Regions from separate parts of the Homo sapiens genome. Here region 2 is linked to region 1. Evidence: fine-mapped expression QTL. A gene starts in region 1. The other region holds a variant in brackets. All regions are shown on one strand. Distances are between the middles of the regions.

What was found. PIP is the estimated chance that this variant, and not a neighbour inherited with it, causes the effect.
Region 2: its variant is fine-mapped to the expression of SVBP in left ventricle (GTEx, PIP above 0.99).

The regions. Positions count from the first base shown.
Region 1 is chr1:42,809,927-42,825,796 of GRCh38, reverse strand. It overlaps SVBP (small vasohibin binding protein), which reads left to right and starts at 8,400. Exons shown (of 3, transcript NM_199342.4): 1 at 8,400-8,607; 2 at 9,217-9,366. The coding sequence starts at 9,253. It overlaps ERMAP (erythroblast membrane associated protein (Scianna blood group)), which reads right to left and starts at 8,675. Exons shown (of 12, transcript NM_001017922.2): 1 at 8,544-8,675; 2 at 59-174. RefSeq lists silencers at 8,257-8,546, 8,697-8,896, 9,457-9,526.
Region 2 is chr1:42,756,769-42,772,638 of GRCh38, reverse strand. It overlaps P3H1 (prolyl 3-hydroxylase 1), which reads left to right and starts at 5,611. Exons shown (of 15, transcript NM_022356.4): 1 at 5,611-6,132; 2 at 10,164-10,316; 3 at 13,249-13,438; 4 at 13,656-13,787; 5 at 14,717-14,856. The coding sequence starts at 5,668. C1orf50 (chromosome 1 open reading frame 50) reads right to left here and starts at 5,390. Exons shown (of 5, transcript NM_024097.4): 1 at 5,249-5,390; 2 at 5,015-5,130. The coding sequence starts at 5,327. RefSeq lists silencers at 5,103-5,242, 5,863-5,972 and an enhancer at 6,233-6,352. The variant T/A (reference allele first, on the strand shown) is at 8,098.

The DNA of each region.
Region 1 (15,870 bases):
TGAGGATCCTGAGAAAGTTAAAGGACTAAAAAGCATGAAGAGAGAGAGGAGGACTCACCACCTTCTGGATCAGGGACGCTTGTTCCTCTCACAGGCAAAGCTGGAGTTTGCAAGCTGGGAACACTCCTTCCCCATGCAGAGAGACCAGGGAGCAGGCAAGCGCATCAGGAAGGCCTAGGGATGTGGGCCGGGAAAAGTTCATATTTTATGAAATATGAGAGGCCAGGGCTCTCTCTGCCCCCACAGAACTCCCTTCTCGCTGTCCCTGTAAACCAGCAAGCCACACCCTGTCTGTATGCCCCTGATAAAAGAACAGAGCAAAGAGGAGGCTCCCAAAAATGAGGGAACCACTGAGTATGACTGACCGGGTAGGAGGCACGTTTGCCCCTCCACTCCCTTTTCCTCCAATGCTGCCAATAGTAATTCCCTCTGATGCGTTTTGATCCTATCACATTCTTTCTGAAAACCTTCCCCCTTTACTTTTCAAATCAGAGTAAATTGGAAGATTGGTTTCAAAGACATCCACCAATTAACCACCTTCTTTAACTCACTATCTTTATCTCCAGCTACACCCTGACATGTGCCTTCTGATAAGCAAGCTTGCTGTTTTCCAACATGTGATAAACGCTTCCCGCCTGTCTTGCTTTCATAATATCCTTAGCTGTATGTTCATAATCTCCATAATTATATCATTAACAATACATTACACATTTTTATGTCCTTTGAACTTTATAAAGATGGAGCCCATTGTACATAATTCCCAATTATTCCCTTTTTTTATTCAACATTAGCTTCTGAGTCTAGCAGACATCTGTGGTGGCCCACACCATGTCCCCTCAGCCCACCCAATTTTGGTGTAGCTGAGACTTGCAGGCAAGCTGCTAGCATGTCACCTCATAGGCCATGGCATTTTTCTGCTTGCCTGTCTTGGGGCTTTCTACAAAGCCTTGGAAGGCTGTGCAGCCCAGAAGTTCACCAAAGCTAACACCTCGGAGACATAAACAACAGTGAGAGGAGTCAAGACAAAATGCTCCAGGCTTGCACCTTCAGCTCTGAGCTGTATTCGACATGATTCCTCTGAGTGTTCCCAATGGGAGTGAGCACGGTGGTTCATAGTGGTAAGTAGCTCCGTACTGCACCTTTTATTGACTTTTCTTCCTTTTTTGCTCATTCCCATTTCTGCTTCCTGGGATTACCTCCTAAATACACTCTTGAACTGAAGTACTTGTCTCACACCTCACACTCTGTTCTGGGGGTGTACAAATTAAGACACTGAAATTAATCCAGGTTGTTTCACAGAGCACTAGGATATTCATTCACTGCTATATAGTAGACCATTATATAAATCTACCAACAGTTTCTCTCGTCCCTTAATGATAGAAATGTGGGTTGTTTCTGGGCTTTAGCTTTTATAAATAATACTGTCCTGAACATTCTTTTTTTTTTTTTGAGACAGAGTCTCGCTCCGTCGCCCAGGCTGGAGTGCAGTGGTACGATCTCGGCTCACTGCAAGCTCCGCCTCCTGGGCTCATGCCATTCTCCTGCCTCAGCCTCCGGAGTAGCTGGGACTACAGACGCCCGCCACCACGCCCAGCTATTTTTTTTTTTGTATTTTTAGTAGAGACGGGGTTTCACCGTGTTAGCCAGGATGGTCTTGATCTCCTGACCTTGTGATCCGCCCGCCTCGGCCTCCCAAAGTGCTGGGATTACAGGCGTGAGCCACCGCGCCCGGCCTCGTGCCCTGAACATTCTTGATAGGTATTTCCTGCTCACATGTGCAAGAATTTCTCTAGAGCACCAGTTCTTAATGTGTGGTCCACAAACACTTGAAGTCCCTGAGGCCCTATCATCCAGGTTAAAACTACATTCATCATAATAAAGACGTTATTTGCCTTTTTCACGGTATTGACATTTTCAAGGACACTGCAAAAGCAATAGTGGGTAAAACAGCTAGCACAAATCAGGAAGTGGCACCAAACTGTAGTAGAAGTTACAAATTTTATTAAATTTCAACTCTTAGATACACATCTTTTTAATAGTTTGTGTGACAAAATGGGAAGGATGCATAAACAGTTACGCTGCATATCAAAGTATGATGACTTTATCGAGGAAAAAACCTTAAGTGATTGAGTTGTGAGCTGAAGTAATCGCTTGACTCATGGAGCACCATTCTTACCTGAAAGTACAGCTGAAAGACAAAGTATAATTATTCAGACTTGGGTATTTGGCAGGCATTTTCTCCAAAATGAATAAAGTGCACCTGTCACTTCAGGAAAAGCAACTGACAGTGTTTGTTGTCAATGAGAACATTCAATCTTTTGAGCAAAAATTAGAATTTTGGAAAATTTTTATCTGCTGCTTGATACCCTCACAATAGCAAAAGACTTTTCTGATGAGATTGGCATTGATATTAATAAATGTGATTTTTTGATGTTGTATAATGAAATGTGTCAACATTTAGAAGATCTGTAAAACTCAGTGACTCAGCAATTTCCAAATGACCAATGGGTGTGTTGACAAAACCCTGCATGGGTAAAACATTCATTTAAAATGCAAGAAAAAACTGTGAGTGTTGCTGTAATAGAGTATAAAAAGGTCATTGCTATGGTTTCAGATTTCATGTCACAACTAAGCTTTAAAAAACTACCACTTGCTGAGTTTTGGTGTCTTATCAAAGAATATCCACGATTATCTGAAAAAGCTACTGAAATGCTCCTTTTCCAATTGCATACACTTCAACCACAAAACATACTGCAGCAGATTGAAAGATATAGCTGGCTTGAGAATACAGCTGTCTTCTATTAAGCCAGACATCTAAAATATTTATAGCCATTAAAAAGAATAAAATCCCATCATTCAAAGTGACATGGATGGAACTAGAAAACATTACGTTATATGAAATAAGTCAGGCACAGAAAGTTAAACACCACATGTTCTCACTCATAGTTAGATGTTAAAAAAAAAGAAAAAGTTAATCTCATAGAAGTGAAAAGCAGAACAGAGGTTACTAGAGGCTGGAGAGGGAAGGGGAGGATAGGGAGAGATTTGTTCAATAACACAAAATTACAGCTAGGTAGGAGGAACAACTTCTACTGTTTTATAGCACTGTAGGATGACCATAGTTAACAATAATATATTATGTAGTTTCAAATAAAGAAGAAAGGATACTGAATGTCCCCAAAACACAGAAATGATAAATGTTTGAGATGAATATGCCAATTACCCTGATCTGATCACTACACATTGTATGTATCAAAATATTACTCTGTACCCCATAAATATGTACCATATGTGTCAATTAAAAATTAATTAGGGCTGGGTGCAGTGGCTCACGCCTGTAATCCCAGCACTTTGGGAGGCTGAGCCAGGCGGGTCACCTGAGTTCAGGAGTTCAAGACCATCCTGGCCAACATTGCGAAATCCTGTCTCTACTAAAAATACAAAAATTACCCAGGCGTGGTGGCACACGCTTATAATCCCAGCTACTCAGGAGGCTGAGGCACAAGAATTGCTTGAAGCTGGGAGGTGGAGGTTGCAGTGAGCTGAGATCACACCACCACACTCCAGCCTGGGCGAGAGAGTGAGACTCCATCTTAAAAAAAAAAAAATTAATTTTTTAAAAAGGATTTATATAAATATAAAGCAGTGCTACTCAGTAATATTTTTGTTTCAAAAAAGTTGCTTTTCATAAATATATGTTTTGTTGTTATATAATTTATTATTTTTATTTTTAAAAGTAGTAATTATATTTAATTTTTCTTAGTTTTCTTTTTTTTTTTTTTTAGAGCTAGGGTCTAGCTCTGTTGCCCAGGCTGGAGTGCAAAGGCACAATCATAGCTCACTGCAGCCTTGAACTCCTAGGCTCAAGTGATCCTCTTGCCTCAGTCTCCCTAGTAGCTAGGACTACAGGTGCATGCCACCAAGCCCAGCTATTTTTAAAAATTTTTTTGTAGAGATGGGGTCTTACTACGTTGCCCAGGCTGGTCTCAAACTCCTGGCCTAAAGTGATCCTCGCACCTTGGCCTCCCAAAATGCTGGATTACAGGCATGAACCACCACACCCAGTCAGTTTTAATTTTTAATATGGAAAATTTCAAAAAATATAACTCATATAAACTGAAGCTCCCTGAGGTCCTCAATAATTTTTAAATGTAAAGCGTTTCTCAGAATATATACCTAGAAGTAGTATTGCCAGGTTATAGATGATACTAAATTGTTTTCCAAAGTAATTGTACCAATTTATAACTTGTCATAATTAATATTTTTACTGCTTTCTCCAGAAGCATTTTATCAGATAGTCTAAATCACATCATAAAATGAGTTTCTTATCTGAAATGTTCTTTTTAGACTTCTAACTCTATGAGTGAGAAAAACAGATACAGACATAGATAAAGATATCACTCATAATCGTAATCTCAGAATCCAGTAATAATCACTGTAATTTTTTTGGTCTATATGCTTCCTGACTTAAAAAGAGGGAGCTCTAGATTTCCAGTTAAATAAACATGTCTCATTGAACACAAATGCTTATCTCTGTTACCTCCCAAAATGATCTAAAATGACAATCTTGGAGTGCAAAAGGAAAAGCCTATAAGGACAAAGAGAACAGGACAGTAAGTAACTGTGCAATAGAGATGTCAATACATTTCTTTAATGAAGGAAAGCAGAGGGCTCACTAGTAATAGAGCTAGGAAAAACTGAACTCTAACCCAGGTGCCTGCAGAGGGAGGCAGGATTGGGGGAAACATCAGATAAAGGGTTCCTGACATCAACCCTTGACATCAGCAAGAAGAAAGCTGATTCTCAACTGAGAACCTTCCAGGCTTGGGATGGGAGGGACCAGGGCCTGGCTCTACCTCCCGGGGTTGTTGTAAGGATTAAATTAGCTAAAACATGCAAAATACTTAAAATAGGGGCTGATACTCAATGGTAGCTGTTATTGTCTGAGGATAAGCTCCAACTTGAAAGCCAGAGACCAAAATAAACAACAGAGACAATCTAGGAAGCAGAAGAAAACAGCAGAAAATTACAACTGGAATCCTCAGAAATATGAAATAAGAGAAGATCCTGAATCCACAACATAAGAGCAAGAGGCTACCAAAAAGGAAAGTCGGGGATCAAACAAAAACTCTTGGAAATTAACATTTTTGTAGCAGAAATGAAAAAATTCAATAGAAGAACCAGGGGATACAGCTCAGGAAAATCTCTTGTAAATTAGAATAAACAAAACCAGGAAATGGAACATGAAGAAAAATTTAAAAACAGGGAAACTGGCTGGGTGCAGCAGCTCATGCCTGTAATCTGAGTACTTTGGGAGGCTGAGGCAGGAGGATCACTTGAAGCCAGGAGTTCAAGACTAGCCTGGCCAACATAGGGAGACCCTGTCTCTATTTGTTAAAAAAAAAAAAAAAAAAAGAGAAACTGATCACAGAGAACGTTTCCCAGAATTGAAGACTTTGTTTCCCAATTGAAAGGGGCCACCGAGTGCTTAGCATAATGAATGAAAAATACTTAAAGGACAGTTTGTTATGAACGTTCAGAACATCAAGGATAAAGGAGAAAAATATCCTAAACAAATTAACAAATTAACAAACAAAATATATGGGAAGTAACACAAGTCAGAATAAATCAGTCTCCTCAAGAGTAGCCACATGAGAAGCTAGATGACAATGAATCAATGCCGTTAAACTTCTGAGGGAAAATAATTTCCAATGTGGAAATCTGTCACTCAAGGATGAAAGAAAATAAAGCCATTTTTAGACAAGCAAGGACTCAAAAATTTAGCTTCCATGAACCCCTTCTGGGGAGTTAGTGGAGAACATACTCCTCCAAAATGAGAGAATAAACCAAGAATGGAAAAACATAAGATCCAGAGAGCAGGGGATTTGGCACAGGAGAAACAAGAAGAGAATCCCCAGAATGTGGTTAGGTCCCTAATCCTAGGACAAGAGCTGTGAAGCAAGGCTAAGCAGAGGAGTTTGGAGCAAAGAGAGGATGAGTCTAAGGAGGGATGCTGCCAAGAAAAAAAAAAAAGACACTGGTAAATGACCTGGTTCACATCTGTAGTACCAGCCACTGAGGGGCTGAAGCGGGAGGATCACTTGAGCCCACCTCTGAAAATAAAAAATAAACAAGGGATGCATAGATCATTAAGCAAATAAAAATAGATAATTTTTTGACTCTAGAAAAAATATTATTCAATAAAGTGAATATAATCTTAGTGTAGTATATACCTCAACTGTAAAAATATTCTAGTTATATTACTATAAACTCTTGCTAGTCATTCAACAAACCAGGAAATTCTGCAGCCTGGCCAAGAGTCCACTGGTAGACACAAAAGAGACAGACAAAGCATAAACTCATGGAAAGAATAGAGAGGGGACTTTGACAGTGTTCAGCCTCAACATTCACTCCCTCCTGGCTCCAACCTTCACCTTCCCAATAAAGAATGTAGAATCCCAAACTGGTATCTCCAGTTCCGTTCTTTTCTGAAATCTTCTAATTGCTCACTGGACAATTCTTCTTGCCTATTGCCACTTGAAGCGTAATCTAGCTCTTTCTCTCTCTCGGTCCCTCTCTTGCGCGCGCGCACACACACACACACACACACACACACACACACACACGCTCCTAACTTATCCTCTTCCTCACCGTTTCCCAAACCAACTCATCACACCTTCTCCACTTTCAACAGTGGCTCAGTGGCACCACTACTTTTCCAGTCTTCCATGTGGCTTTTCCACTCCTCCATTCCCTATAGCTGGTTTGTTTTTAGCTGGCTTCTAAAGGTCCTGCCGTGTCTTCAGCTGTAATCTAGTTCATAGCTTATATGAACGTTATAAACCATACCATGTGACACAAATGTAAAATACCAGTACTACATCAAGATTTCTGAAATAGACTCTGACTTGGTTACTTTTATTAATAATAATCGAATCAGCATTTGTATAGGGTTTTTAAAAAGACATTTAATGTACTTTCCTCTGATTGCTAAAGTATAAACGTTTACTGTAGAAATTTTGGAAAAGCTGGGCGCAATTGCTCACATCTGTAATCCCAGCACTCTGGGAGACTGAGGCAGGAGGATCACTTGAGCCCAGGATTTCCAGATCACCCTGGGAAACACAGTGAGACTCCATCTCTACAAAAAAATTTTAAAAAATTAGCCAGGCATGATGGTGTGTGCCTGTAGTCCCAGATACTTTGGAGGCTGAGGTGGGAGGATTGCTTGAGCCCAGGTTACAGTGAGTTATGATCACACCACTGCACTCCAGCCTGGGTGACAGAGCAAGACCCCATCTATTTTTTAAAAATTAAATAAATAAAAAATAAACATTGTGCAGTAGATCTCTAGAACTTTTTCACCTTACAAACCTAAAATTCTATACCCTTTAAACAATTCCTCTTTTCCCTCTCTCCTAGCCACTGGCAGTCACCATTCTACTTTCTGTTTCTTAGACTTTGATTGCTTTAGATACTTCATATGAATGGAAACATGCAGTATTTGTCTTTTTGGGGCATTGTGCTCACTTTTAAGGCTTTTGATACCTAGTACTAAACTGACCTCCAGAAAGGCTGTTAACGATTTACAGTTTGACTGGAAGCGTGTGTCCATCTGGGCTGAGTTCATTGCTTGCTTAGCATCTATCAGTTGTTTCAATTCTTGCCAGTTTGATAGAGGAACAAATAGTGGACCCAAACAGGGTTTTACTTTGGATAAGGCCATTGTCCTATGAATCCTGGCTGAAATATTTGCTCCAGCACTTAGAAGCTGTGTGACCCGGGACAACTCACTTAACTTTTCAATGCTTCTGTTCCCTTATGTGTAAATGGGGATAATAATATACACGTATACATTATACACACTTATTATGAGGAATTAGTTAATAAATGTGAAGCTGTAAGAACAGTGCCTGGAATATAGTAAGCCCAAATGTAAGGTAGCTATTATCATTTTTGTCAATCCTTGCTAATGTAATACCTGGAAAATTACAGCCAGCTATTTTAATTTACATCTCCTCGGTAATCAGTTGAACGTGAATGTTCTCTGTATTTATACTGGCTATTGGTACTTCTGTCAAGATTTCCTTTTTCAAAGCACTGTGGCAAACGGGATCTCACTTGATCCTCCCAATAAACTCATGAATGAAGAAGGTGGCAATCATCAATCCCCACTTTTCGAATTAAGAAATTGAGCCTCGGAATTCGAATTCTGAGCAATTCCAATTCCAGGATTCGGATCTCACCCTCTAAAACCTAGTAGCTGTTGCAGAAAATATAACGGGAAAAAGCTTTGGTTAGCCGTAACCACCACCCACCCCGGTGTGGCTCCGCCCCTGCCCCGCCCCGGCACCGGCTTGCCCCGCCCCGCCCTCTACGCGGGTTTCCAGCCATCCTCTCTGCGCACGCGCGGCCGCTCCTGCGGGCGGAAGCCTCCTGGCGCTCGGCCCTGCGCCCCTCCCCCCGGCGCGCGGCCCCGCCCAGGACGAGGGGCGGTGGGCAGGCAGCGCTGGGTCCAGTGGTCGGGGGAAGGCGAGGATTACCCTCCCGGAGGCGTTGTCTGCGACTCGGCGGAGGCTCCAACTTCCAGTGGCCCGGTCGGGAAAGGTACAGACTCCCAAGCCTCTTGGTCGGCGGCTCCAGCGACCGCCATTTTCCTCCAGGAGAGGGAAGAGGGCAGGAGGCGGGGGCCGTCCCCTGGGGCCGGGCGGGCCGGGGCGGGGTCGGGGGGCCGGGCGGTGGGGGGCGGGCCCGGCTGGCTATGGGGCCCGGCCCCCTGGCCCCAGGAGCGGCTGCTGCGGCGGAGTTAGGCCGGCCGCAGTGGGAAAACCCTGGGCGCCCTCTGGGTCTCAGCGTCCCATTAGGACGGTTCCGCGCTGGGTGCCGCACGCCGCACAGTGGGCAACGCTTTCACAGGGGTCTTTGCATTTCACCCGCACACAGCAGCTCCTGGAGGGAGGCCAGGAAAACACTTAACCCATTTTGCAGACAGAAAACTAAGGCTCAAAGTGGGGAGGAGACTTGCCCAGGGACACCCAGCGAGGTTGTGGCCTTGGGACTCGGTTCCTACTCCCCCACATCCAGCGCCCTTGCCACCAGACCACTCTGCCTCACCTGGCAAAGGATGGGGCGGAGCTAAAGGATTAGAGGAGTAACTGGCAGGGTATTTTTTGTTTTGTTTTGTTTTGAAGATCTGCCTCTTTCTGTACCACCCAGATCAGAGCCTCCTAAGAAATATCCAGAAGTCAAGCCATGGATCCACCTGCACGTAAAGAAAAAACCAAAGTTAAAGAATCTGTCAGCAGAGTTGAGAAGGCCAAACAGAAATCAGCCCAGCAGGAGCTGAAGCAGAGACAAAGAGCAGAGGTGAGATTAAGGCGGAGGCTCTGTATGCCTGTAGTCTGCTGGAGATGATGCTGGAATAGAGAAACAGCAGAAAGGAGAACTGACAGCGAGCCATACTTGCCTCCAGGCAGGATGGGTGTTCTCCCAGGTTTAGAGGGGACAACACTGAGGTTCAGAATGGTGAGGTGGCAGCCCAGAATCACATGCCAAGTTAGTGTCAGAACCCCAGTCTGGTGCGGAGCTTTTGTGGTAAGAGACCCAAGGGAAGGAAGAAAGGAAAAAAAATGATATGTAAGGGGAAAGAAGGGGTCAGAATGAGAGAGAGCACGCAAGTGTCAGACACCCCCAGTACAGATGTTCTGGATTTGGTGCGGAAAGCAGCTACTCATGCCAGGTAGAGGCCCAAGCTTTAAACTCACCAGTGTGTTCCTTTGTTCTCTCAACGATTACAATCAACTTGAGAATAAAAAGCTTTAAACTTTACCCTGCCAATATTGAGCCACATACAGACATAAGTATTTTATTTTAGTATTTAATGTCAGGGAAAATCTTGCTGGTCTCTTTTTCCCTCTTTGTTTTGTTTATCTGTCTGCTTTGTTCATTTCCTGTCTTACATCCTTTTACTTCTCCATGGACAACTACTTTTTTTTATACTTTTACATTCAAATATATTAATAGATATCCTTGAACAATATACAGTAGTATTTTAAATTTTTACATTAATAAAATTCCTGCATTTTATTTTGCATTTTGCTTACATTGTTTTTTAGAACTATTCATGCCAATATAAGAATTTAGTTTATTCTCATTAATTTTTATAATAGTCTATTTTATGCATCCATTTTACTTAGTATATTTATTCATTCTTACAGAGATGCACATTTAAATTATTTATAGTATTTTTTGCTATTACAAACATTGCTGTAGTGAAAAGCTTTTAGGTGTCTCCTTTGGCACCTGCCTTAGAATTTCTGTAGGTTATTTAACTAGAAAAATTACTGGGTACATTCTCAATTTTACTAGACATTGCCACATTGCTTTTTTTTTTTGAGATGGAGTCTCTTTTTATTTTTTATTTTTTATTATTATACTTTAAGTTCTAGGGTACCTGTGCACAACATGCAGGTTTGTTACATATGTATACATGTGCCATGTTGGTGTGCTGCACCCATTAACTCGTCATTTACATTAGGTATATCTCCTAATGCTTTCCCTCCCCCCTCCCCCCACCCCACAACAGGCCCTGGTGTGTGATGTTCCCCTTCCTGTGTCCAAGTGTTCTCATTGTTCAGTTCCCACCTATGAGTGAGAACATGCGGTGTTTGGTTTTTTGTTCTTACGATAGTTTGCTGAGAATGATGGTTTCCAGCTTCATCCATGTCCCTACAAAGGACATGAACTCATCCCTTTTTATGGCTGCATAGTATTCCATGGTGTATATGTGCCACATTTTCTTAATCCAGTCTATCATTGATGGACACTTGGGTTGGTTCCAAGTCTTTGCTATTGTGAATAGTGCCATAATAAACATACGTGTGCATGTGTCTTTATAGCAGCATGGTTTATAATCCTTTGGGTATATACCCAGTAATGGGATGGCTGGGTCAAATGGTATTTCTAGTTCTAGATCCTTGAGGAATCACCACATTGTCTTCCATAATGGTTGAACTAGTTTACAGTCCCACCAACAGTGTAAAAGTGTTCCTATTTCTCCACATCCTCTCCAGCACCTGTTGTTTCCTGACTTTTTAATGATCGCCATTCTAACTGGTGTGAGATGGTATCTCATTGTGGTTTTGATTTGCATTTCTCTGATGGTGAGTCTCTTTTTTTTTTGAGACGGAGTCTTGCTCTGTCACCCAGGCTGGAGTGCAGTGGCGTGATCTCTGCTCACTGCAACCTCTGCCTCCCGGGTGCAAGCAATTCTCCTGCCTCGGCCTCCAGAGTAGCTGGGATTACAGGCGTGCACCACTGCCTTGGCCTCCCAAAGTGCTGGGATTATAGGTGTGAGCCACTGCACCCGGCCGATATTGTCAACTTTTAATTTTTGTTAACCTGATTCATTCATTAAATATTGGCCAGGCACAGTGGCTCACACCTGTAATCCCAGCACTTTGGGAGTCCGAGGCAGGCGGATCATGAGATCAAGAGATTGAGACCATCCTGGCCAACATGGTGAAACCCTGTCTCTACTAAAAAAAAAATTAGCTGGGCGTGGTGGTGCTCCCTGTAGTCCCAGCTACTCGGGAGGCTGAGGCAGGAGAATTGCTTGAACCCAGGAGACGGAGGTTGCCGAGATTGTGCCACTGCACTCTAGCCTGGGCGACAGAGCTAGACTCTGTCTCAAAAACAAAAAAAAAAGAAAAAGAACTGCTAGTATGTGCCAGGCACTGTTCGAGGAATTTGAGTCACATGATGACAAAGCAGAAAAGAATCCCTGCCTTCATGGATCTTGCATTCCAGCAAGGGGAGGCAGTAAACATAATAAGTAAACTTACTAGTGCATTTGAAGTTAATCTGTAAACTGAAATCTACCTTTGGGTTAAGGCAGACCCCCTGAGAGCTGTGGTCCTTTACCTTCCCATTCCCACCTGGATCCGGGTCCTCAGATGATATGACTGCATTGTGCTTTGGTGAACAATATGAGGGTTGCTATAAGAAACAGCCCTGAAGCAGGAGAACAGAAGCTACAGATAAGAAAACCATTGATCAGAGAAATGGTGATATAGCCAAGGGAGCTCTCACTGGAGGAACAGAGCTATCTATACTTCCGTGTACAACAAATGCTCTGGGAAATGGAGAACCAGTTGCCAGCCCATATGTGGTTACCTCACACCAATCAAAAGTGACTGTGGAGAGCACCCCCAATTTGGAAAACCAAATGAAAATGGAGTATCTCTGTTCAGAATGAAAATTTTGAAGAAATTATAAATTTACCCATTGGATCGAAACCATCCAGATTAGATGTCACTAACAGTAAGAGCCCAGAAGTTCCTTTGAATCCAGTTTTGGCCTTTGATGATGAAGGAACGCTTGGGCCCCTGGCTCAGGTAGATGGTGTTCAAACACAACAGACTGCAGAAGTTAAATGCGTATTTTTTCTGAAGAACCAACGTCAAAATTTAACGAGAATTTCTATAATTAATGGAATTCCTTTCATGCTATAAAAGAGCATCCCCTCTTCCAGTTTTCTAAAGATTTCTTGACCATCATTTTGAAAAGATTTATTTAAACTAGCTAAAGACAACAGACAGGATAGCTTTCCTAATAATTTTCATCAGTAGAAAAAAAATACTCCTCATTCTTCAGTACTTTCAAATGGCTTTTTCCAGTGTGCTCCTTCTTAGCAAATTAGTATTTTTCTGCGTTATTTAAAAGACAAGAGGATTTGGCTATAAAATGATTGACTAGGATTGACTAGGCATGATTTTTTTTCACATAGTTTGGTCTTAAAGCTTAACAGCTTAAAATTGGCAAAAAAAACTTGTGCCTTTTACCATGTAATACTTGAAAAGTAAGTACCTCTTTGCTACAAGTAGAATGAATAGGGAAAAGTTTAAGCCTGTTTTTTTAAAAATATTATTTTAAAGAGCTCTATTTGTAGAGGCAAATTATAGGCAGATTACCAGTTTCTTATAAATACAAACTTGTACATGGACATTCTGCAAACCCAGCTGTCATATTCTTGCAACTACTTTTGCAAAAGCATACTAAAAGGTTTTAAAATGTGAAAAAACATTATTTTTTCAGAGCAAGAAAATAATTTACTGTTGTCTTCAATAATGTGTAAAGTTTTTCCAGATAAACTAATCAAATAAATTAGAACAATGTGACAACATTGCAAATTTGTCATTAGATGCATTCCTTCTAACGTTACCAGGGGAGGATGTTACTGATGATTCAAGGCTGTTTCTGAAGTCTGTGTGTTGCTACTGTCCCCAGTGATGGTGGGACTTACCTCTGTCCTACTTGATCACAAATTATGTTAGGGGGAAATAAAGATTTAATATTTCATTAAATAAAAAAGAAATTTGGTTTTGCTCATTTAAGAGCAACAAGAAAATGGTGGTGTGTTGACTGTGTTTGGCCGCAGGGCACAGACCTTTATGGAAGTCCTCGCTCTGCATGGCATCCACCAGCTTTTCACCTTTCATTCTTATTCTTCACTTTTGCTGCTGAGCCTAGCTGTACAAATTTGCACTTTCATTTGCTAATGTAAATTCAATTTATTTTACCATTTTAGAGACTACTAATGATTAAATGTAAGAGAGGACACATGTTTTTATGTGGAGTGTTAAAAAAGATAAATTTATACCACTGTAATGTGCTGGATTTATTAAAAGAGATTGGTTAAACTGCTCGGTTGAATGAGAGACTTCCTCTATTGTACTCTTTTTTTTTTTTTTAAATCCAAGGATATTGTCTTTAGTAACAGCTTGTAACTTGTTAAAACATTAATTTGGGGTTTTTCCCTATTCTTAATTGTCTATGTACACATAGTAATTATGTTAAAATCCGTTTTTAAAAAAAACAGCCCTATGAAACTGTCCTCTGTGCATATTGTAAGGATAGATGTTGAGGACATTGTTCATGCCCTTATTGACACCCTTCTGTAAAGTTCTATAGGTTAAATTTATTTGTCTGACTTCAAATCTCAGCTCCTCCATAAATCCCAGTTCTTCCATGTGACGTTGGACAAGATACTTAACCTCTCTGAACCCCCAGTTCATCAGTTCCTCCTTGGTAAAATGAGGATAACATCTACCTCAGAAGACCATTAAAAGGAATAGAAATACCACGTGTAAAGCCCATAGCGCAGTACTTGGCAGAGGAAGCATTTGATAACTAGCAGTGATTATGATCAGGAATAATCTTGTGTTTCCAAGCAGGCAGCCTGCTCTTATTGTGTGGACCCTAAATTGAACAACTGCTGAGTTCCTGTTGACCTGCTGAAATGCAACGTTGCTGCACTCAAGCAGCAGCTGGCCCCGTGCAGCTCTTGAGATGTGCCAGGACCGAGCCAAGCCTACACATGCATAGCCACATGTAGTCCTCACACCAGGGCTCCAAAGCAGGAGTTATTGTGACTCCCATTTAACCTTGGTTAATCCGATATGTAAAATATATGGCCTTGTGAGGTAGGCAGTATTATCCTCACTTCAAAGGGATGTGAGTAGAGTCCTGTAGTTAAAGAGGGGCAGGCCTGTGGTCTAAACATCTTCTGACTTTTGTCTGTTGTTTTTTGCCTTGCCCCCTACAGCTGCCTTGCTGTTTTTTTTTCTGTTTGGTTGGTTGGTGTTTTTGTTTTGTTTTGAGACGGAGTCTCGCTCTGTCACCCAGGCTGGAGTGCAGTGGCACGATCTCGACTCAGTGCAACCTCCACCTCCCAGGTTCAAGCAATTCTCCTGTATCAGCCTCCTGAGTAGCTGGGATTACAGGCACCCGCCACCATGCCTGGCTAATTTTGTATTTTTAGTAGAGATGGACTTTCACCATGTTGGTCAGGCTGGTCTCGAACTCCTGACCTCAAGTGATCCGCACACCTCGGCCTCCCAAAGTGCTGGGATTACATATGTGAGCCGCCGCGCCTATCCTGTTTGTTTTTAATCTTTATTGCCTGGAATGTAATGCAACAAGACCCTTTGTGGGGAGGAAGAGACAGTTTCTATTCAATTCTGCAGACGCCAGATTCCAGAAAGTTAGATGTGAAGGAGAGATGTGGGAGGTGAATGGGAACGGAAGGCACATTGGCAGTGGAAGCACCGTTTGACACTGCTAGGGTCCGTTTCCTTCTTGACTGAGAGTCATTCTTTGGCCTGGACACCCTGACCCATTGTGAGTCTCCTCTTTCTCCTACCATCTTGCCTCCTTGATCTGGAGGTCTCTGAGAAGCTATTTAATTTGCATCTCAGTCCCTAGTACAGTAATGTGCAGATTAAAAATGCTCAGTAAATACTTAGTGAATGAAGCAAGCAGAGGTTTTCAAATATATATGTATATATGTGGGCCCGGGCACAGTGGCTCACACCTGTAATCCCAGCACTTTGGGAGGCCAAGGTGGGCAGATCACGAGGTCAGGAGATCAAGACCATCCTGGCCAACATGGTGAAATCCCGTCTCTACTAAAATACAAAAAATTAGCCAGGCACGGTGGTGCACGCCTGTAGTCCCAGCTACTCAGGAGGCTGAGGCAAGGGAATTGCTTGAACCAGGAGGCGGAGGTTGCAGTGAGCTGAGATCGGGTCACTGCACTCCAGCCTGGTGACAGAGCAAGACTCTGCTCACAAAAAAAATATATGTGTGTGTGTGTGTGTGTGTGTGTGTGTATGTATGTATGTGTGTGTGTGTGTGTGTGTTAAAAGTATATTTATATAATGTGTGTATGTGGCTTAAGAATAAAACACCCAACTATAGAACGTGACCAGTAACTGGGAAGCTTTGTGTACTCCTTTCCTGGTCATGTACCTCACCCTTCCCACCAGCAGTACCCTCTTTGCTGTATTTTATGCTAATCATTCTTGCTGT
Region 2 (15,870 bases), 53 kb after region 1:
CAGCTAATTTTTGTATTTTTAGTAGAGGCAGGGTTTCACCATGTTGTCCAGGCTGGTCTCGAACTTCTGACCTCAGGTGATCCGCCCACCTCGGCCTCCCAAAGGTCTAAGATGACAGGTGTGAGCCACTGAGCCCAGCCAGGACATTTCTTAAAATAGATCAAATTCTCAAAGCTAGGAGAGACTAATGTGACAAATTCATGTGCTGGGAAGGATTACCACTCAGGCAATAGAATTCTGTCAAAAACTTCCACCTTACTTTTAAGAAAAGCTGATTATACACAATTAAGGTAAAGAAATGAGGAGATTAAACTAGAACCTGAACTAAGAAATATTAAAGAGAATTTGCTGGTTAGTTGAGGAGTCTTAAGGCAAAGTTCAGGTATAAACCAGTGTTATGAGTGAACAGAAACCACACAAGTAAACTGAGTCATTTATCTGTCCCACAGATGTATATTAGGCAGCTACTATGTGTCAGACACCACACTAGGCACTGGGTGTACTGGCAAACAGGAAAGAGAAGTCCCTGCCTTTGTCAAGATCGCAAGTCAAGTCTAATACCGTTCAACAGAAATATGAGGCAAGTTGCATATAAAATTTTAAATTTTCTGGTAGCCACGTTAATAGTAAATTAATTCTAACAATACTTTTTTTTTTTTTTTTTGAGGCAGAGTCTCGCTCTGTCACGGAGGCTGGAATGCAGTGGTGCAGAGGCTCACTGCAACCTCCGCCTCCCGGGTTCAAGCAAATCTCGCACCTCAGCCTCCTGAGTAGCTAGGACCACAGGCATGCGTCACCATGCCCCGCTAATTTTTGTATTTTTAGTAGAGATGGGGTTTTGCCATGTTTGCCAGGCTGGCCTCGAACTCCTGGCCTCAAGTGATACGCCTGCCTCAGCCTCCCAAAGTACTGGGATTACAGGCATGAGCCACCGTGCTCAGCTAATACATTTTACTTAACCTAATATATCAAAAACATTTTCATTTTAACATGTAATCACTATTTGTAAGTTGTTAATGAAATATTTTGCATTTTTTGTTTGTTTTTGTTTCTTTTTTTGGTCCTTCTCAGTCTAATCCATATTTTGCATTTGATATTAAGCCTTCAAAATATAGTGTTTATTTTGTACTCACAGCACATCTCAATTTGGATGCTAAATTTTCATCAGAAATACTTCATCTGTATTTAAACTTAATAAAATTTATATGTGAAAAAGTTGATTCACATACTCAAATTGTTCCAATATACTTGAGTTCCAATAATTGAAGTAATTATCAGGTTTTTTAAATTCAAATTAATTAAAATCAAATAAAATACAAAATTCGGTTCCTCAGCCACACTAACAACGTAACACAAGTGCTTAACAGACATAATGTTGCTAGTGGCTACCTAAAGCACAGCTCCAGTGAGTAATAGATACCAAAAAGTAAAGATGATTAAAGCTAATATTATATGTACTCATAACAATGCACTGTTATGAAGGAAATAACCACAATTATGTCGTAGAAGCAGGTTAAAGATAACAAATGAGTTAAGTAAAAAAGCTACTTCATTTTTATGAAGTTTAATAATAGGGAGTGGTGGGGAATTGGAAAGTATATGTAGCCTAGAGGTATTTGAATTCAATTTAATAATACTGTCATTTGGATGGGGTAGGGTACGGTCTTCTTCAGACAAGAAGGCCTCACCAAGGATATAACATTTGACTTGGGTCTAAATGAAAGGAGAGGACCGACCATGAAAAAAGCTGGAAAAAAAAAAGTTTGCAGGCATTTGAGGCCAGTGCAGCTGAAGAGTAGTTAGTGATGGGCAATGTGTAGAACAGGGTTTAAAAAGAGAGCAGAGACCAGATTGTGCAGTCTTGTAGCCCATGGTAAAAGAATTTGCATTTTGTTCCAAGAATGAAAGCCCAGGTGTGGTGGCTCACACCTGTAATCCCAGCACTTTGGGAGGCCGTAGCGGATGGATCACCTGAGGTCGGGCGTTTGAGACCAGCCTGACCAACATGGAGAAACCCTGTCTCTACTAAAAATACAAAATTAGCCAGGCATGGCGGCACATGTCTATAATCCCAGCTACTTGGGAGGCTGAGGCAGGAGAATTGCTTGAACTCGGTAGGCAGAGGTTGCTGTGAGCCAAGATGGCGCCATTGCACTCCAGCCTGGGCAACAAGAGCGAAACTCCATCTCAAAAAAAAAAAAAAGAAAGAAAGAAAGGAGGAGCCATATATGGCCAAGGAGAGAGTAGGTATTTCTAGAGCTAAGGTAGTTCCAGATTAGGGGTGGCCTTATAATAACCCTCCCTTTTCTTAAGGTGTTAGCAATAAATCTCATAAACAAAATTTGAATTTATATTTTGAAGAGTTAATATAAAATGCAAAATATGGATTAGTCTGAGGTCCAAAAAAAGGAAAAAAGAAACAAACAAAAAAAATGCAAAATATTTCACGAACAACTTAAAAACAAAAGAGCCTCATAAAAAAGAAAGGAAGGGAAGAGTACCTACAACTACTAAGCACTAACCCTGGCCTCAACTACTCTGAGGCCCTTTACATTCATCTCATTTACTTCTCACAACACCTTTATGACGCTGGAGATGATAACCTCACTTTCTCATTTTAGCAATTAAGACTCACAGACATGAGGCAACCTGTCCAAGGTTTCACAGATAATAAACAGCAAAGGATCTGAACACAGGTCAGATTCCAAAATTCATGCCTTAATACCAGGCCTCCTGAGCTTTCTGAACACACACCAATACCTGGGTCAGTCTTGCTAAAAAAGTACTTTTTTTTTTGAGACGGAGTCTTACTTTGTCACCCAGGCTGGAGTGAAGTGGCACAATCTCCACTCACTGCAACATCTGCCTCCCAGGTTCAAGTGATTCTCCGGCCTCAGCCTCATGAGTAGCTGGAATTACGGGCGTCTGCCACCATGCCCGGCTAATTTTTTGTATTTTTAGTAGAGACAGGGTTTCACTATGTTGGCCAGGCTGGTCTTGAATTCCTGATCTCGTGATCCACCCGCCTTGGCCTCCCAAAGTGCTCGGATTACAAGCGTGAGCCACTGCACCCAGCCCACCACCATTTTTTTTTCTTTTTAGACTTGCTCTGTCACCCAGGCTGGAGTGCAGTGGTGTGATCTCAGCTCACTGCAACCTCTGCCTCCCAGGTTCAAGCAGTTCTCCCGCCTCAGCCTCCAGAGTAGCTTCGGACTACAGGCACACACCACCATGCCCGGCTAATTTTTTGTATTTTAGTAGAGACAGGGTTTCACATGTCGCCCAGGTTGGTCTCCAACTCCTGAGCTCAGGCAATCCTCCCGCCTTAGCCTCCCAAAGTGCTAAGATTACAGGCGTGAGCCACCACACCCAGCCTCATTTTTTTGTTTTTTTTTAAGAGTCTCACTCTGTCACCAATTCTGGAGTACAGTGGTGCGATCTCGGCTCACTGCAACCTCTGTCTCCTGGGCTCAAGCGATTCTCATGCCTCAGCCTCCCGAGTAGCTGAGACTACAGGCATGAGTCACCACACCTTTTAGTAGAGACGGGGTTTCACCATGTTGGCCAGACTGGTCTCGAACTCCTGACTTCAAATGATCCACCCACCTTGGCCTCCCAAAGTGCTGGGATTACAAGTGTGAGCCACGGCACCTGGCCAAAAAGTACATTTTAGATAGTTAATATGTTTGATTCAATTTGTTTGTCTCTAAAGTTTTTTTTTTCTTCAGCTTCTCAAATACAGATTGTATTGGGGAAACAGAGGCAGCATAATAATGCATCCTCTGTATTTCATAAGATTATAGGATGAAAGACAAAAACTGTGTTCTTTCTTCCATCTGTTCAGGCCATCGTAATAAACACGATAGTCATTCAATAGCACATGAATACGTTGTGTGCACAAGATTCTGTCCCTGCCAACCTCCCTCCCAATAAGAGTAATCTGATTAACTAGATGCATATTCTCTTAATAAATAAAAGTTGCACTTTGCTCCCCAGCTCTTCAAAAAGAAGAAAGCCAAGTTTTGAATTAAAGGAGCTTTCTGCGTATCTGAATTTTTCTTAATTTTAAAAAAAAAAGGATTCGAAGGATTTCTAGGATCATTGAAAAAAAAAGAGATGTGAGGGAATTTGAGCACATTAAATAATTTTGGGCAAAGCAAAGACCCTGGAACATAATCAAGGCCAAATCTGATAGTGTATACAGGGATAAGGGGCCATGATAATCTTTAAAACAGCAGGACCCTCCATCTGTGGACACTGAAGAGGGTGTACAACTGGAAGTCTTGATAAGAGATAAGAAGGAATCTGGTTTTTCATTGAATAATGACAAAACTTTAGATCTTGGAGCTCTACTACTTCAAACCTTTCACTTCACAGATAAAATAGTTGAGGTCCAGAGAGAAGTAATCTGCCTTAAGTCGCACTGCAAGTTAGTATCAAAAGTGGGATTAATACTCATGTGTCCAAACTTCCAGTGTTTTTTCCATTATTTCACATTTCCTCCTTATTTGACTTATTTTGGCCATCCATATATAAACACTGGGCTTGGGAATACTGTGTTTAATGAGGACTAAACTTGGAGTCCTTGCCCTGCTAGAAGATGTTTAAACTCTCAGGTAACAAAGATCTTATGGGAAGCAGCTTAAAATAAGCGGACCTTGAAACTTCCCGAAGAACTTTTCTTTGTGTCAAATGGGAAGAATAACTCTGTACTGCCTACCTCACAAGGCTGTCCTAAGGTGCAAATGAAATAATGAACACTAAAGTGTTGTGTAAACCTTCCCACGAAGGAAGATTATGGGCACTCAAGTTGCAGTTAGAGGAACCTTTGGTCCCAGAAGGTCATTCGAATCAGGCCACCGACTCACAATGACAGTCGGCTTTACTCGTCTGTAAAATGGAGACAAGAGCAAATGCCACCCCCACCATAGGTGGTAGTGAGGTCTGAGCCGAAAGACGCAGAGTACAACGTGAACGAAGATGGTTATTCGCTGCCCCGGCCGCGCCTCCTCACCTTCTGCACCTGCTCTGCGAGCGCCACGAGGTCTAAGGGGTCCCCGGCCCGGTGGGTGTGGTAGGGGCTCACCAGGGCCAGGCCGCCGGGGGTCGGGGTGAGCTCCACCAGGGCTCCTGCGACACACACCCAGGAACACAAGCCGTGAGCTCCCGCCGTCGGCCTCCCGCGGAGCCCCGAGACCGGCTGCCTCGCGGGAGCTGACTTCCCCCTGCTGACTCCCGCCCCGCATACCTCCCTGGCCTGCAGCTGGCGGCGCTCCTTGCCTTTCAAGGACCCCCTCGGTCCGCCCCGGCGCGGCGGCGTCCTCCATGACAGCGCCTTATCCTCCCCACTCCCTGGGCTGTGCGAGTAGGAAGAGCCTGCGCATAAAGGCGCGTGGGCGGAGCTTCCGTCTTTCTTGTCTACTGGGCGTCAGTTCGACTGAGCAAGGCCTGAGCTCGGAGGCGGGGCTCCGGCTGACGCGCCGGGATTCGCTGAGGGCCGGTGGGGGGATCCGGGCTGACTGAAAGGAAAAGAGGCGGTGCAAGCCTCGTGGGCATGCGCCGCCCGGCTTGGAAGGTGGGGCTTCGCCCGGGGGCGGGCCTTCGCCGGGGGTAGGACTCCGGCCTTGGTGGCGGGTGGCTGGCGGTTCCGTTAGGTCTGAGGGAGCGATGGCGGTACGCGCGTTGAAGCTGCTGACCACACTGCTGGCTGTCGTGGCCGCTGCCTCCCAAGCCGAGGTCGAGTCCGAGGCAGGATGGGGCATGGTGACGCCTGATCTGCTCTTCGCCGAGGGGACCGCAGCCTACGCGCGCGGGGACTGGCCCGGGGTGGTCCTGAGCATGGAACGGGCGCTGCGCTCCCGGGCAGCCCTCCGCGCCCTTCGCCTGCGCTGCCGCACCCAGTGTGCCGCCGACTTCCCGTGGGAGCTGGACCCCGACTGGTCCCCCAGCCCGGCCCAGGCCTCGGGCGCCGCCGCCCTGCGCGACCTGAGCTTCTTCGGGGGCCTTCTGCGTCGCGCTGCCTGCCTGCGCCGCTGCCTCGGGCCGCCGGCCGCCCACTCGCTCAGCGAAGAGATGGAGCTGGAGTTCCGCAAGCGGAGCCCCTACAACTACCTGCAGGTCGCCTACTTCAAGGTGCAGACCTGCCTGGAACCAGGCGGCCGGGGTCCTTCTGGGGAGAGGAGTGTTGCAGGGGACCTGAGGAGCTTGGGGGATCGGGGAAGTGTCCGCAGGGAGGGGAAAGTGGCCTCCTGGCTGGGGAGCTCTCCTCGGAGCCGGGGAGAGCTGCTCCCTGGCAGGAGACCTTCCTCGCCCAGTTCGCATGGGCAGATGCTAACCCCAAAGGTCCAGCCTGGGGTTAGGGCACAGGCCAAGCAAAACTCATGGCCATTTTGTTCCCTGGGAAATCTCCTGGAAGGAATTAAAGCGGCAGTTTGGGTCTCCCATTCTGATGTCATTGTAAGTGTCCGAGTGAGAAGCTAGTAGCGGTCTACAATATCTCCCTTCCGGTTGGTTTTCCAGTGGTGCTTTTCCTGCTGTTTGATTCAGCAGCTCTCTTTCAGGATGTGAGGTTGCCACGTCGCCAGCAGGGGCTGCCTGGCCCTTTCTGTGTGTGTGTGGGGGCGGGGGGGGGACCCTCTGGCTAGTCTGCCAGGTTTACAAAGAAAATGAGTATTTTTCGGAATGCCAGAGTGCCATGTGTCCAAGTGTACACTTGGGCTTGGAGCGTTCCAGGCTTGTTTGGTGGTGGTGATGGTGACGATGATGATGATGATGATAGCCAGCACATACTTCCAGGCACTATTTTAAGCAGTTTGCATTTATTAACGCATTTGCCCTAATCTTCATAATATCTTGTCAGGTAGATGCTGTTATTAGTCCCACTGTATTGGGGGTGGGGGGAGAAAGAGTTGTGCATTATATCTGGTATATCTGTTGTTTAAAAGACCTTCGATTCGATCTAAAGAGACACTTAGAGACTCTTGGGGACCTCAGATTTCCACCCCTCCACAGCATTCTGCCTACACAGTTCCCCTCATTTTTCCTAGTTACTCGGAAGAGCGCTGGACTTGAAATCAAAATAATTGCGTTATGTCTTTGGTTATGTCGCTTCATCATAGCACTTTCTAAAACTATTTGACAAACATGTATTGCATACCTACTGCATTCCAGTTCTTGTACAAGTAATTAAATGCTCGACTAACGTCTTTGCTTTGTCTTGCTTTGCTGTTAAGAGTTACTGTAGTAAGGGCTACTGCAAGGGCATATACTTAGGGCTGCGGGAGCACAAAGGAGGGAGACTCTAGCTTTATCTCAGAGAAATTAGACTTCAAAGAAGAGGTAATATTGAAGCCTGCCCTAAGTATTGCCAGGGGGAGAGGAAAGAAGGCTCCTCCAGATAGAGAGAAAAGTAGAACCAAAGCATGATGTATTCAGGAAAAAAAATGAACTCTTGTGATTGCAATGTCGAGATGTGTGTGGGGAGTAGTAGGAGAGGCGGCTAGAAAAGTCAGTGAGGCCAGATTTGGAAGAGAATTCTGCGGACTGCAGGGAGCCATCCTCAGATTTGGGTTTTAAAACGCTTATTCTGGAAGCCATGGTGAATGAGCCTTGGAAGAAGGAGAAAGTGGTGGCACTTGATTAGGAGGCAGACATTTGTCCACAAGAGAGGAGGTTAAGTACCTCAGTGCTTAGAGAGTAAAGAAGGCTGGGGGTGGAGAGAGGAGTGAGGACATGAGGGAGAACAGAGAAAGGCAGGAGCAGCGCTGAAAGACACAAGAGCTAGAGTAATTCCATGAAAGGGACAGACCTGAAAAAATTTCTAATTTTACAGTTAAAGAAACTGAGGTACAGAGATGGGGAGTTATTTACCTTGGGTCACCTAACCAGGGCTGACTCCTTTAGTGTGCCTTTACTAGTACCAATGATAAGAAAATAAGTTTTCTTAGCATATTAATCATACCACCTAAAATTTATTGAGCACTTAATCTGTGCCCAGCACCATGTATTACAGGCTGCATATTATCTCGTTGAACTCTCAACAATGCTAGGAGATAGCTAGAGAATGCTATCTCCAGATGATAGATTAGGGAAACTGAG[T/A]TTAGAAAGTAAACTTTAAGTATCTTGTCTACTGCCCAGCCAGTCAGTGAGTCATTAAGCCCAGATGTGATGCTGGCCTGTCTCTTTTCTTTCTTTCTTTTTTTTTTTTTTTTTTTTTGAGATGGAGTCTCGCTGTTGCCAGGCTGGAGTGCAGTGGCGACCTTGGCTTACTGCAACCTCTGACTTCTGGTTTTCTGGTTCAAGTGACTCCCCTACCTCAGCCTCCCGAGTAGCTGGGATTACAGGCACGTGCCATCACATCCGGCTAATTTTTGTATTTTTAGTAGAGATGGGGTTTCTCCATATTGGCCAGGATGGTCTGGATCTCCTGACCTTGTGATCCACCTGCCTCGGCCTCCCAAAGTGCGGGATTACAGGCGTGAGCCACCGCACCCAGCCCTCTTTTCTTTTGAGACGGAGTTTCGCTCTTGTTGCCCAAGCTAGAGTGCAATGGTGCGATCTCGGCTCACTGCAACCTCCGCCTCCTGGGTTCAAGCGATTCTCCTGCCTCAGCCTCCTGAGTAGCTGGGATTACAGGCACATGCCACCACGCCCAGCTATTGTTGGTCTCAAACTCCTGACCTCATGATCCGCTGGTCTCAAACTCCTGACCTCATGATCCGCCCGCCTCAGCCTCCCAAAGTGCTGGGATTATAGGCGTGAACCCCCGTGCCTGGCCACGGCTGGTCTCTTTGATACCAGTGTCCACATAGTTAATTACTAGATCATCAGTGATTTATTTGGTTGGATTCTATATATGAAACCTGTGTTACTTTGACATGCTGGAGTCCATTGCTGTGGGCATTGTGGTCTGTAGCCTATTTCTCCCCCCTTGGATTTCTTTTTTTTTTTTTTTTTTTTTTTTTTTTGAGACAAGAGTCTCGCTCTGTCACCCAGGCTGGAGTATGGTGCTGTGATCTCGGCTCGCTGTAACCTCCGCCTCCCGGGTTCAAGCGATTCTCCTGCTTCAGCCTCCCAAGAAGCTGGGATTACGGGTGTGCGCCACAACGCCCAGCTAATTTTTGTATTTTTAGTAGAGACGGGGTTTCACCATGTTGGCCAGGCTGGTCTCAAACTCCTGACCTCAAGAGATCTGCCCCCTTCGGCCTCCCAAAGTGCTGGGATTACAGGCATGAGCTACCGCCCCCGACCACCCCCTCAGATTTCTTAGAGCTATTTGTTTGAACCTCATGAGCCCTGAGCTTTGAGTCAGAAAATACTATGTCTGGACTTAGTAAAGGACCTTAGAATTTTTAGCCATCCACCTTTTCCCTAAATGTCTCAAAAATTCTTCATTTTATTTTATGCAAAAAAAAATTTTTTTCTAGGAAAATTCTTAGGCATAGTCTGTTAGCTGCTCTTTTTTCTCTACCCCTAAATCCTTGAAGCCACAGAATTTCTTCAGCTCAGGCATTACATTTGATTCATGAAATATATATATGTATTTTTTTTTTTTTGAGTCAGGGTCCTGCTGTGTCACCCAAGCTGGAGTGCTGTGGCACCATCTTGGCTCACTGCAACCTCTGCTTCCCAGGCCCAAGCGTCCTCCCACCTCAGCCTGCAGAGTAGCTGGGACTACAGGCATATAGTACCATGTAATTTTTGTATTTTTCGTAAAGACAGGGTTTCACCATGTTGCCCAGACTGGTCTTGAACTCCTGAGCTCAAGTGATCCACCTGCCTCGGCCTCTAAAAATGCTGGGATTACAGACCTGAGCCACCGCACCCAGCATGAAAACATATTATGTGGGCAGTCAGTCTTTCACAGCACTCCCCATACAATATGACCTTTGTTTTAAAATGGAACATTGCTACTTCCTGTAATCTGGGGAACCCCTAAATCTGACTTGGGAAAGAGCTACAAATCTGCCCAGGGCACTATGCTCCTAATCTGTCGTGGGTAGTTCCTGCAATAGGTGTGCTTCCTGGGGCTGGCAGGGGCTGGGCACGCTGAGTGGAGGGCTCAGGGAGGCAGGGATTTCCTGTTTATGTGGACTGCTCATGTGGACACAAACGTTCAGAGATTGGATGTGAGCATTATCCACCTTCTCATGCTTCATTCTTAGATCAACAAGTTGGAGAAAGCTGTTGCTGCAGCACACACCTTCTTCGTGGGCAATCCTGAGCACATGGAAATGCAGCAGAACCTAGACTATTACCAAACCATGTCTGGAGTGAAGGAGGCCGACTTCAAGGATCTTGAGACTCAACCCCATATGGTGAAAAAAACTTTATCCCCTTCTTTCTTTCTTTCTTTTTAAATTTATTTTAGAGACAGAGTCTTGCTCTGTCACCCAGGCTGGAGTGCAGTGGCTTGATCATAGCTCACTGTAACCTCAAATTCCCGGACTCAAGAGACCCTCTAGTCTCGGCCTCCTGAGTAGTTGGGACTACAGGCATGCATTCTTTTGTTTTTTTTTAAATGACATTACTAAGGTTGTTTTCTAATTACATTACAGAAGTAATGAATGTTCATTGTATAACATTGTAGAAATGTAGGTAAGTATAAAATAAAAAGTAATCATTTGTAATACCGCCACCTTAAGAAAACCAGTTTATATTTTGCCCTATTTTTTAAGTCTTCCGTATATAATTTTTTCATCTAATTTGGTGTTATATCATGTATGCATTTTTTATCATCTTTTTTATTTTTTTTGAGGCAGGGTCTCACTTTGTTGTCCAGGCTGCAGTGCAATGGTGTGATCATAGCTCACTGCAGCCTTGACCTCCTGGGCTCAAGTGATCCTCCCGCCTCAGCCCCACAAATAGCTGGGACTAGAGGCATGCACCACCATACCCAGCTATTGTTTTTATTTTTTGTAGAGACGGGGTCTCACTGTGTTGCCCAGGCTGATTTCAAACTCCTGGCCTCAAGCGATCCTACTGCCTTGGGCTCCCAAAGTGCTGGGATTGCAGGTGTGAGCCACCATGGCCAGCCCCATCATCATTTTTTAACTAACATTATTATCATGAGTCTTTTCTCATGTCTTCAGTTTTATTTGAAAACATAATTGTTTATGGCTGCATGATAGTCCATCTTATGCAGAGACTATATTAATTCACTAGTCACATTTTTTTGGTCATGTATGTTTTTGATTTTCACTACAATAAATGTTACAGTATCCTTCAATGTTCTCATTCTATTTGTTTAGCAGGAAAAGTTCCAAAGGAGGGACTGTCTGTGATGATATAGCATTTTATAGAGAGTTTATGGTTCCTTACATTTTAATTATAAAATAGGAATGTTAGAAACAATATAAGAATGACTTATAGGCCAGGCGCAGTGGCTAACACCTGTAATCCCAGCACTTTGGGAGGCCGAGGTGGGTGGATCACTTAAGGTCAGGAGTTTGAGACCAGCCTGGCCAATATGGTGAAACCCCATCTCTACTAAAAATACAAAAATTAGCCAGGCATGGTGGCATGCACCCGTAATCCCAGCTACTCGACATGGAGGCAGGAGAATAGCTTGAACCTGGAAGGTGGAGGTTGCAGTGAGCCAAGATTGTGCCACTGCACTCCAGCCTGGGTGACAGAGCAACAGTCAAAAAAAAAAAAAAAAAAAGAATGACTTTTAAAAGTAAGTTGTGGCCAGGTGCAGTGGGTCACACCTGTCATCCCAGCACTTTGGAAGGCCAAGGCGGGCGGATCACAAGGTCAGGAGATTGAGACCGTCCTGCCTAACATGGTGAATCCCTGTCTCTACTAAAAATACAAAAATTAGCTGAGCGTGGTGGTGTGTGCCTGTATTCCCAGCTACTCAGGAGCCTGAGGCAGAAGAATCGCTTGAACCCAGGAGGCGGAGGTTGCAGTGAGCCGAGATTGTGCCACTGCACTCCAGCCTGGGTGACAGAGCGAGACTCCATCACACACACAAAAAAAAGTAAGTTGTGTTGGCCGGGCGTGGTGGCTCATGCCTGTAATCCCAGAATTTTGGGAGGCCGAGGTGAGTGGATCACTTGAGGCCAGAAGTTCAAGACCAGCCTGGCCAACATGGTGAAATCCTGTCTCTACTAAAAATACAAAAATTAACCAGGTGTGGTGGTGTATGTCTGTAATCCCAGCTTCTCAGGAGGCTGAGGCGCTAGAATCACTTGAACCCAGGAGGTGGAGGTTACAGTGAGCTGAGATCATGCCACTGCCCTCCAGCCTGGGCTGTCTGTCTCAAAAAAAAACTCTGTCTCAAAACAAAACAAAACAAAAAGTAAGTTGTGTTTATTTGAAAACTGTTAGCCCTACAAAAAAGTGCAAGAACCTAGGCCAGGCACGGTGGCTCATGCCTGTAATCCCAGCACTTCGGGAGGCCGAGGCGGGCAGATCACCTGAGGTCAGCAGTTCAAGACCAGCCAGACCAACATGACAAAACCCCATCTCTACTAAAAACACAAAATTAGCCAGGCGTGGTGGCGCATACCTGTAATCCCAGCTACTCTGGAGGCTGAGGCAGGAGAATTGCTTGAACCCTGGAGGCGGATGTTGCAGTGAGCCAAGATCGCACTATTGCACTCTAGCCTGGGCAACAAGAGTGAAACTCCGACTCAAAAAAAAAAAAAAAAAAAAGTGCAAGAATCTGTCACTAATGGGGGGGGAAGAAAAGTACAAGAAAATCATAATGAACTCCTAGATATCTTTCATCTAGATTAAGAGTTAAATGTTTTTTGGCCAGGCACAGTGGCTCACACCTGTAATCCCAGCACTTTAGGAGGCCGAGTTGGGAGGATTGCTTGAGGTTAGGAGTTGGAGACCAGCCTGGCCAACATGGTGAAACCCCGTCTTTACTAAAATACAAAAATTAGCTGGGCACAATGTAATCCCAGCTACTAGGGAGGCTGAGGCAAGAGAATCACTTGAACCCAGGAGGTGGAGGTTGCAGTGAGCTGAGATTGTGCCACTGCAGTCCAGCCTGGGCAACAGAGTGAGACTCTGTCTCAAAAAAAGAAAAAAAGAGCTAAATGTTTTTAAATTTCCAGAGCTAAATATTTTGTAAAGACCATTTACAAAAGGCCTTCATTTTATAGTGGTACCCAGGTCACCCCTTTCCATCCATAACCTGAGGAACAGGAAATTAGGACCCCTGTGAAGGTGGCTGAGGGCAAGGAGAGAGGGTTCCTCCTCTGTGGCCTGCATTTGAGTGCTCCTTCTTCCCAGTAGCAAGAATTTCGACTGGGAGTGCGACTCTACTCAGAGGAACAGCCACAGGAAGCTGTGCCCCACCTAGAGGCGGCGCTGCAAGAATACTTTGTGGCCTATGAGGAGTGCCGTGCCCTCTGCGAAGGGCCCTATGACTACGATGGCTACAACTACCTTGAGTACAACGCTGACCTCTTCCAGGCCATCACAGGTGCGTGCAGTTCAGAGCCAGACCTTCAGCCAGGCCTCCTGGGACTCTAAGGTCACCATCTGATAATATAAATGGGGACTCTTCACCCTCATTCCTCAATTTATTAAATCTGAGAAGCTGATGAAAAATTGCTTCCATTTGAATTTGTTCATCTTAACCAGAATTTGAGTTCTAAAGAGTGACCTCATAGTTATTCCTTCTGTTTGATTCCTTTCAGATCATTACATCCAGGTCCTCAACTGTAAGCAGAACTGTGTCACGGAGCTTGCTTCCCACCCAAGTCGAGAGAAGCCCTTTGAAGACTTCCTCCCATCGCATTATAATTATCTGCAGTTTGCCTACTATAACAGTAAGGCCTACTTTCCTTCCTCTTTCTCTGCTGGCTAACTAAGAAGCTAAAGGCAAGGTGGGCAGGGATTACAGCCACTTACTTCCTCAAGGTGTTTGGCTTATTTCAGTAGCTATGGGAGGCACCATGCCAAGTGATCCCTGGGTAGTTTGTTATAAACAACTGGCCTAGGAAGCCAATACCAGCAACCCAAAAAGCTGGGGGAGGGAGACTTAGGACCTCATCTCTTGTCCCTTCTATAACTTGTAATCTATTTTTGCTTTTGAATTAAAGTTAATAGCAAAATAAGGGTATGCCACAGTTTAAACTAGCTCAGAGGACATTTGCTAGCCCTCTCCCTGGTATAGCACTGATGCTTTTGTGGGGCTGCCAATTAATACCCAGAAAACCAACTCTTTGCAGAGTCCCTACTGTGTGCTAAGCATTACAAACATATTGATGAGTGTACAATATTTACAGTTGAGTTGAGATGACTAACAAATATCAACAAGAACTATTTTGCCAAAGAGACAATCTGCTATTGTAATCTTCCTTGTCTTCTGAAAATCTATAGAAAAAAGAAGGTAGGAAGACAGGGAAATTGATCTAATGATTGAGTGTATTGAGGCAAAATATTAAGGAGTATTGGAATTATTTGTGAATCTTAAAAGATGTGGGCATGCAGAGAATTCTGATTCTTTTCTGTTTCATTGTTAGGCAGCCCTGAGGACATTGACCACCTCACCTTAAAATTAATCACACATTCTATGTGTATTACTTAACTCCTGCCCCTGAAATCAGGCCATCATGTTAAGTAGCAGGCACCAGCTTGTCATGCTGCCATTGCCTCAAGCTTTGTGGAGACTGAACACTAAGTGGTCCCTGGTGCTAGGATTTTATCCTTTCCTTTTGACTCTTTCCTCTCAGCCATTCTTCTTTCCACTTTGCAGTTGGGAATTATACACAGGCTGTTGAATGTGCCAAGACCTATCTTCTCTTCTTCCCCAATGACGAGGTGATGAACCAAAATTTGGCCTATTATGCAGCTATGCTTGGAGAAGAACACACCAGATCCATCGGCCCCCGTGAGGTGAGAGACTTCCTTCTGTTATGACAGCTGCCAGCTGAACTCAGACCTGAGGGCGGAAGAGTGGGGTAGCAGAGGGGAGTAGGCGCTGTGCGTGCAGGGCAGGGGCCAGATGTCAGTGTTGGGGCCAGATGTGAGTTCAGTCACTCGGCTTGTTATTCAGAGGAGAAGGGAGCACAGGGAGGGAGTGTGGGGAGTACACAGGAGCCTCAATTAGCGTTATCTGGGCCCAGAAGTCTATTCTCTGAGTCCCGCAGAACTGCGCGGTGAGCATATTCTTTCCCCTCTTGGCACCCCTAACTTGGACACTCGATATTATTTGGCCAAGAGCTATCATTTTTCACTTAATACTGGTTGTTTTTTTTCTGCTCACCTGTTTTCTGTCTCCATTTTCTTTCCCATCTCTTCTTCTTCCTGCCATTGTTTGTTCTCTCCCATCTTTCAGCATTTTCCCTGTCTCTCTCCAAAACCAGGAGAAATATCTGTATAACACAAAGACTGCTGCGCTGAAAGGAGACACCCAGGCTCTTCTTCCGAGCTCTGGAGTCTGAGAGCCTCCAGTAGAAACAGCCTCTTGCTGCCCCTCCTGTGTGGGTTGTCATTGTAGTTGTCCTCTTTAGCCACTAGATGGTGACCATCTGGCTTTAAGATGGCACTTCCGGTCTCTTTTGTCTTGTTTGGTTAATACCTTTTCCCTGCCTTCCTTATGGCCATTAAGGGGAGTCTGAGGGGAGTGAGGGGAAATAAACCCACGTGGCCAATCTAGCATTTTTAACTAGAAGTCCCCTTTTGGAAAGAAGGCAACTAACATTTGTTGAGCCGCTGTCCAGGCGAAGCTCTGTGCGGGGTGGGCTGTATCCATCATCTCATTTAATCATCACAGCCACCCTGCAAGGTTGGCACTCTTCTTCCCACTTTAGGGATGAGGACTGTTAGCATCTGAGAGATGAAGTAACTTGTGCAGTGGCTTGTGGCCAGTCAGTGGTGACCGGAATCTGTTCCCTGCTTGGACCCAGT